2 linked regions of the Homo sapiens genome follow. The protein of the gene in region 1 purifies or fractionates together with the protein of each later gene. This does not show direct contact. Each region holds a gene or a part of one and is shown in the gene's direction. Other genes may lie near its edges.

What was found. The genes of interacting proteins can lie anywhere in the genome.
Region 2: the proteins of TOP2A (region 1) and ZNF451 purify together in Homo sapiens (affinity purification with mass spectrometry; 3 studies listed by BioGRID and IntAct, with this or other methods). This does not show direct contact.

What each region holds. Positions count from the first base shown.
Region 1 is NC_000017.11:40,397,263-40,401,014, reverse strand, and holds part of TOP2A (DNA topoisomerase 2-alpha), read left to right. Parts: coding exon 1-165; intron 166-351; coding exon 352-486; intron 487-605; coding exon 606-806; intron 807-947; coding exon 948-1,143; intron 1,144-1,883; coding exon 1,884-1,975; intron 1,976-2,077; coding exon 2,078-2,242; intron 2,243-2,373; coding exon 2,374-2,457; intron 2,458-3,752. UniProt on the Homo sapiens protein: Key decatenating enzyme that alters DNA topology by binding to two double-stranded DNA molecules, generating a double-stranded break in one of the strands, passing the intact strand through the broken strand, and religating the broken strand.
Region 2 is NC_000006.12:57,142,045-57,145,796, forward strand, and holds part of ZNF451 (E3 SUMO-protein ligase ZNF451), read left to right. Parts: coding exon 1-51; intron 52-3,752. UniProt on the Homo sapiens protein: E3 SUMO-protein ligase; has a preference for SUMO2 and SUMO3 and facilitates UBE2I/UBC9-mediated sumoylation of target proteins. Plays a role in protein SUMO2 modification in response to stress caused by DNA damage and by proteasome inhibitors (in vitro).

The sequences.
Region 1 (3,752 bases):
CAGCGTGTTGAGCCTGAATGGTACATTCCTATTATTCCCATGGTGCTGATAAATGGTGCTGAAGGAATCGGTACTGGGTGGTCCTGCAAAATCCCCAACTTTGATGTGCGTGAAATTGTAAATAACATCAGGCGTTTGATGGATGGAGAAGAACCTTTGCCAATGGTAAGTATTCTGTGTGTGTTAAGAGCCTTAACTTTTCCTTGGGTTTCAGTTGAATAGATTGTATGATTAAAGATGATGCAAACATAAAATTTAATTTCATACTTTAGATTTATTGTTAAACGCTGTTGTGATTTCCGTCTAGTATCACATTTAGAAAACATACTGTTTTTTTAAATGCCAATTTAGCTTCCAAGTTACAAGAACTTCAAGGGTACTATTGAAGAACTGGCTCCAAATCAATATGTGATTAGTGGTGAAGTAGCTATTCTTAATTCTACAACCATTGAAATCTCAGAGCTTCCCGTCAGAACATGGACCCAGGTAAATAATTATGGATTTCTTTTTTAGGTTTGTGATCAAAAGAAATACCTTTTGTACTATTGCTGTTGACTATTCAGAAGCCTATATTTTAGAAACTTCAGGATTATTTCTTTCTTTAGACATACAAAGAACAAGTTCTAGAACCCATGTTGAATGGCACCGAGAAGACACCTCCTCTCATAACAGACTATAGGGAATACCATACAGATACCACTGTGAAATTTGTTGTGAAGATGACTGAAGAAAAACTGGCAGAGGCAGAGAGAGTTGGACTACACAAAGTCTTCAAACTCCAAACTAGTCTCACATGCAACTCTATGGTATGTATTTGTTTTGTGAGATGTACACGTTTCAATTTATATTAAAGATTAATATCAATTTTAAAAGTATATCTTAGTCTACCTTTATAAAGTTTAGCCAATTTGTCTATTCTTGGCTCTAATCTTGTTTTCCTTTTTCAGGTGCTTTTTGACCACGTAGGCTGTTTAAAGAAATATGACACGGTGTTGGATATTCTAAGAGACTTTTTTGAACTCAGACTTAAATATTATGGATTAAGAAAAGAATGGCTCCTAGGAATGCTTGGTGCTGAATCTGCTAAACTGAATAATCAGGCTCGCTTTATCTTAGAGAAAATAGATGGCAAAATAATCATTGGTATGTTTTGGGAATAATAACTGCTTACTAAAACTCTAGTTACGCCAAACTTTCTTTAAACATTTTTGGTGAGAGTAATGGTGGAGAAAGAGGCAAAATCCATTTAATTCACCTGGTCACTTATACACGCATTTCTTTAAAATATCTGATTAGGTATTTATAGTTTGAAAGAGATGATGTTTCCTTGACTGAGCATCTTGAGAAATCAAGATTTAGTTGACAATTAGACATGAGGAGAATAGAGAGCTAGAAGACCTTGCATAAACTGATTGACCAAGAGAATAGATACACTAATCATGTCTACAGGAACAGAAAATAAAAGAGACAGAGAAGAGATAATAAATCTGATGGTAAAAAAAAAAAAAGGCAGGAAGATTACGAATGGCTTCTACTCTCTGGGTGTGGTGGCGCATGCCTGTAATCTCAGCACTTGAGCTGGGGAGGTCAAGGCTGCAGTGAGCCTAGGTAGTGCCACTGCACTCCAGCCTGGACACAAGAGTGAGAGAGACCCTGTCTCCAAAAAAAAATGATTTGATCATATATGATTTGACTGCCCCCTTGTGGTAATTTACATTTGTCAATGGTTTAGGGAGACTTGCCTGTATACCGGGATATACAAATTTATGCAAGCACGAAGACAGTTTAATTTCCAGTTTTAAACTTTTGACTTGTGTAAAACCTTATCCCCTTCCTAAAATATTACTCAAAATCATTATCTCTGTTTACTTTTTTAAAAATAGAAAATAAGCCTAAGAAAGAATTAATTAAAGTTCTGATTCAGAGGGGATATGATTCGGATCCTGTGAAGGCCTGGAAAGAAGCCCAGCAAAAGGTAATCTTGGGTGGCACTTTTCTATATTGTTAAAGACTATGTATTGTACAATGTTTATGTTTCACATTTTCTAATAAAGCTAGATTTTAATTAATCCTTTAGGTTCCAGATGAAGAAGAAAATGAAGAGAGTGACAACGAAAAGGAAACTGAAAAGAGTGACTCCGTAACAGATTCTGGACCAACCTTCAACTATCTTCTTGATATGCCCCTTTGGTATTTAACCAAGGAAAAGAAAGATGAACTCTGCAGGCTAAGAAATGAAAAAGTGAGTTGATAGTAGGATGGTACATGCTGCTTAGTTTTGTTCTATTCTAATGGTAAAAGTAAAATTGTGTGTTGCATGAAAATGCTGCTTGTATACATATATTAACTCAATTTTGTAATTATCTTATGAAGGAACAAGAGCTGGACACATTAAAAAGAAAGAGTCCATCAGATTTGTGGAAAGAAGACTTGGCTACATTTATTGAAGAATTGGAGGTATGTAGTTTATAATGCCCATGTTAGAATTTTTATTAATGAAATAATATATTCCAGCAGTATACCTTTGTCAAGATAGTTCACAATTGGCAATAAAAAGAAAATAAGAGGCATAAGGATAAATTCCAAATAGCGTATAAAAGAACAGATTATTGGCCAGGTGCAGTGGCTCACGCTGGTAATCCCAGCATTTTGGAAGGCTGAGTTGGGTGGATCACTTGAGGTCAGGGGTTCAAGACCAGCCTGGCCAACATGGTAAAACCCCATTTCTACTAAAAACACAAAAATTAGCCAGGCATGATGGTGCATACCAGTTACTCAGGAGGCTGAGGCAGGAGAATTGCTTGAACCGAGAGGCAGAGGTTGCAGTGAACCGAGATCACACCACTGCACTCCAGCCTAGGCAACACAGCAAGACTCCGTCTCAAAAAAAAAAAAAAAAAAAAAGGGACAGATTATTAAATACTACTTAGAATACAAGGCCGGGTGCGGTGGCTCACACCTACAATCCCAGCACTTTGGGAGGCCGAAGCAGGCAGATCACCTGAGGTTGGGAGTTCGAGACCAGCCTGACCAACATGGAGAAACCCTGTCTCTACTAAAATTGCAAAATTAGCCAGGCGTAGTGGCACATGCCTGTAATCCCAGCTACTTGGGAGGCTGAGGCAGGAGAATCACTTGAACTCGGGAGGCAGATGTTGCTGTGAGCTAAGATCACACCATTGCACTCCAGCCTGGGCAACAAGAGTGGAACTCCGTCTCAAAAAAAAAAAAAAAAATACTATTTAGAATACAGTAAATGATACCAGGAGACTGCCCAGACATTCAGACATTTCTGGACAAAAAAAGAAAAGAGCAGGAGTTGATTTTTGATAAAGGGAAGAACATATTAGGACTGAGAAGATAAAAAGAGCCTAAATGTGGAAGAAGACCACCAACCCAGTCCCCCAAGTCAACTTAAAAGGACAAAGCCACAGGGCATGGTGGCTCATGCCTGTAATCCCAGCACTCTGGGAGGCTGAGGTGGGCAGATCACTTGAGGTCAGGAGTTCGAGACCAGCCTGGACAACATGGTGAAACCCTGTCTCTACTAAAAATACAAAAATTAGTTGGGTGTGGTGGCATCCGCCTGTAATCCCAGCTACTCAGGAGGTTGAGGCAAGAAAATTGCTTGAACCCAGAAGGCAGAAGTTGCAGTGAGCCGAGATTGCGCCACTGTACTCCAGCCTGGGTGACAGAGCAAGACTCCATCTAAAAAAAAAAAAAAAAAAAGGAGAAAGCAGGGCTATCCAGAT
Region 2 (3,752 bases), on another chromosome or scaffold:
GGCCTGCCACAAGACACTGCGTTCCCACATGGAGCTCACTGCCCATTTCAGGTTTGTATTGGTCTGGAGCTGTAAAGGAATACGGATGAGTGTTTGCCAGTGAGAAGATTCAACAAATACATTTTCTTTCCATGTTTCTCTCCTTTTAAAATGAGAATATACAGTTGCCTGGAAATTAGCCAAATTTAACATAGTGAGAGAAGTTAGAGTTGTGGAAAACGTGGATATATTGATATTCTGCAAGTGTAAAGCAAGCTAACAGTTCTAAGTTTTGTGTATGTTCTTCTGTGTGTGTTCTGTAAGTATGAGTAGGAGAGGAAAGGGTTAAAGTAGAACCTTGGCTTTAAGTCAACCAGAATGGAAAGTATCATATACATTTGAAAGATTAAATCTCAATGAAAGGCCAAATTTATCAAGTAACCAAGAAAGAGTCCAGTATGATTTGTGATTGCCATAGTATCTGTGAGATTTATCTATATTGTTTAGTACATTGTTCCTTCTTATTGGTAAGTAGTATTGTGTGAATATAGCACAATTTGTTGATCCATTCCCTTGTTGATAGATAGTTGGGTTGTTTACAATTTATAGCTTTTATGAATAAAGCTGCTTTGAATACTTTGCACAGGTCTTTTCATGGTCATATGTTTTCATTTCTCTTGGATGGACATTGAAAAGTGGAATTGTTGGTTCAGAAGTAGGTTTATATTTAACTTTATGAGAACCTACTAAATATCCAAAGTTGGTCGTATTAGTTTCATTCCTACAGGTAAGGTATGAAAGTTCTAGTTACTCTTCACCCTTGCTAACATTTGATATTGCCACTCTTTTTCATTTTAGCTATTCTTGTGTCTCATTTTAGTTTATTATGTGCATTTTCTTGATAAACAATGATGTTGGGCACTTTCTTGTGTTTATGGGCTATTTGTTTATCTTTGTGAAATCTCTGTTCAAGTCTTTTGCCAGTCTTCAAAATTGGATTGTTTGCCTTCTTAATAGTGAGTTGGGGTTCTTTATATATTCTAGATACAAATCTTTTGTCAGATTCGTATCTAGAATACAGGAATTTCTAGAATATACAAATATTTATGAGTATATTTTCCTGTGATTTTGCATATTCATATTTTTAATTATACCTTTTGATGAACAGAAGCTTTTCTTTGCATTAGGTGTATAATTTGTTGATTATTTTCTTCTTTTATGGTTATGCTTTCTGTGTCCTGAGAAACCCTTGCCTCTTCTTGCTTAAAGAATGTATTTTATTTCCCTAAATTCAGCTTTGATATTTTTAAATATTTATGTTTATTTCTATAATCTATTTCAAATTTTTGTTGATTTTTACAACAACCATTGTCTGGTTTCCCTGGCAATTCTCTGTTGTTTGCCCATTTTCTAGTTCATTGATTTCTGCTCTTTAAACTTTGAGTTTAATTTGCTTATCTTTGTCTAGCTCTTAAAGGTAGAAGTTTAGATTGACTTTGGATCTTTGTTTTCAATATAAACATTTAAAAATATAAATTTCCCACTAAGCACTGCTTTACCTGCATGCCACAGATGTTGATAAGTTGTGTTTTCATTTTTATTCAGTTAAAAATACGTATCTCTTTTTTCCTCATTTAACCATAGAGTTACCATATGATCCAGCAATTTCTGCTTGTTGACAGCCAAGAGCAAAGTGAACTTGCTCTTGTTCACAAATACTTGTATGTTTGTTTATAGCAGCATTATTCATAATAGTAAAAAAATGGGAACATCCCAAATGTCTATCAGCTGACAAATGGATTTTTTTAACTGGACATATCCATACAAGGGAATATTATTTGGCCATGAAAAGGATTGAAATCCTGATTACATGTTACAACCTCAATGAACTTTGAAAACATTATGCTAAATGAAATAAGCTAGTCACAAAAAGTCCATTTATATGATTCCATTCACATGAAATTCCAGAATAGGGAAATCTGTAGACACAGAAAGTAGTTGCTTAGGGTTCAGTGGTTGCTTGGAGTTGGGGAGCATGGCGAAAAGGGAGGTGGGGAGGTGATAGCTAAAGGGCATGGGTTTTCTTTTTGACATAACACAATGTTCTAAAATTAACTATTGATGGTTGCACATATCTTTATGTGAAAAATAGTTGAAATTATATACCCTAAATGGATGAATTATATGGTATATGAATTATGAATTATATCCTTTTTTTTTTTTTTTTTTTTTTTAAAGATAGGGTCTCTGTCTGTCACCTAGGCTGGAGTGCAATGGTGCAATCTCGGCTCACTGCAACCTCCACCTCCCAAGTTCAAGTGATTCTCGTGCCTCAGCCTCCCAAGTACCTGGGACTATAGGTGTGTGCCACCATACCTGGCTGAGTTTTGTATTTTTTGTAGAGACGGGGTTTCACCATGTTGGCCAGGATGGTCTTGAACTCCTGACCTCAAGTGATCTGTCCGCCTCAGCCTCCCAAAGTGCTGGGATTACAGGCATGTGCCACCGCGCCTAGCCGTGAATTATATCTCAATAAAGCTGTTTAAAAATGTTTTGGAAAAATGTTATCTTTGCCCTTTTGATTTATTGTTTGACCTATAGGTTTATTAGAAATGTGTTGCTTGGCTGGGCGTGGTGGCTCACACCTGTAATCCTAACACTTTGGGAGGCTTAGGCAGGTGGATTGCCTGAGCTCAGGAGTTCGAGACCAGCCTGGCTAACATGGCGAAACCCCATCTCTACTAAAAATACAAAAAATTAACCGGGTGTGGTGGTGAGCGCCTGTAATCCCAGCTACTTGGTGGCTGAGGCAAGAGAATCGCTTGAACCTGGGAGGCAGAGGTTGCAGTGATCCAAGATTGTGCCACTGCACTCCAGCCTGGGTGACAGAAGGATTTTCTGTCTCCAAACACACAAAAAAGATATGTGTGGCTTAACTTCTAAAGGTTTATAGATGTTACATTTAGGTATTTAATTTATAAACATTTAGGGATTTGTATTATTTTTTGTTTCCAATTTAATTCCACAATAATTAGAGAACATATTTTGTACAGTTTTTTTCTTTTGAAATATATTAAATGTATAAAATGGTAGCAGGTCTGTTCTCTCTGGAGTTTAGTAGTGAAGACACAGTTGTTCTATTTTTTTATTTTCCTAGGGAAGTTGATTTATTTTGAGTTAATTTGTGGAATAGTATGTGGTTTTATTGAGCCTAGTTCTTCAGTGCAAAAGCAACTAGGGGCATGACATTTGTCTGACATAAAATTAATCAGTTCTTTATTTTTATTTCTTATAGATTCAGGGGGTACGAGTGCAGTTTTGTTACATGGGTATATTGTGAAGCTCAGATATCTGGGCTTTTAATGTCACTATCATCCAAATAGTGAACATTGTACCCAATAGGTTATTTTCCAACCCTCACCCATTTCCCAACCTCCCACCTTTTGGAGTTTTCAATATCTGTTTATTATTCCACTCTATATGTCCACGTGTACCCATTGTTTAACTCCCACTTAGAAATGAAAATTTGCAGTATTTGACATTCTGAGTTATTTCACTTAGGATAATGGCCTCCAGTTCCATACATGTTGCTTCAAAAGGCATGATTTCATTCTTTTTTATGACTCAGTAGTATTCCATGGTATATATACCATATTTTCTTTATTCAATAATCCATTGATGGACACTTAGGTTGATTCCATTCATTATCGCTATTGTCAATAGTGCTGCGGTAAATGTACAAGTGTAGGTGTCTTTTTGATATAATGCTTACT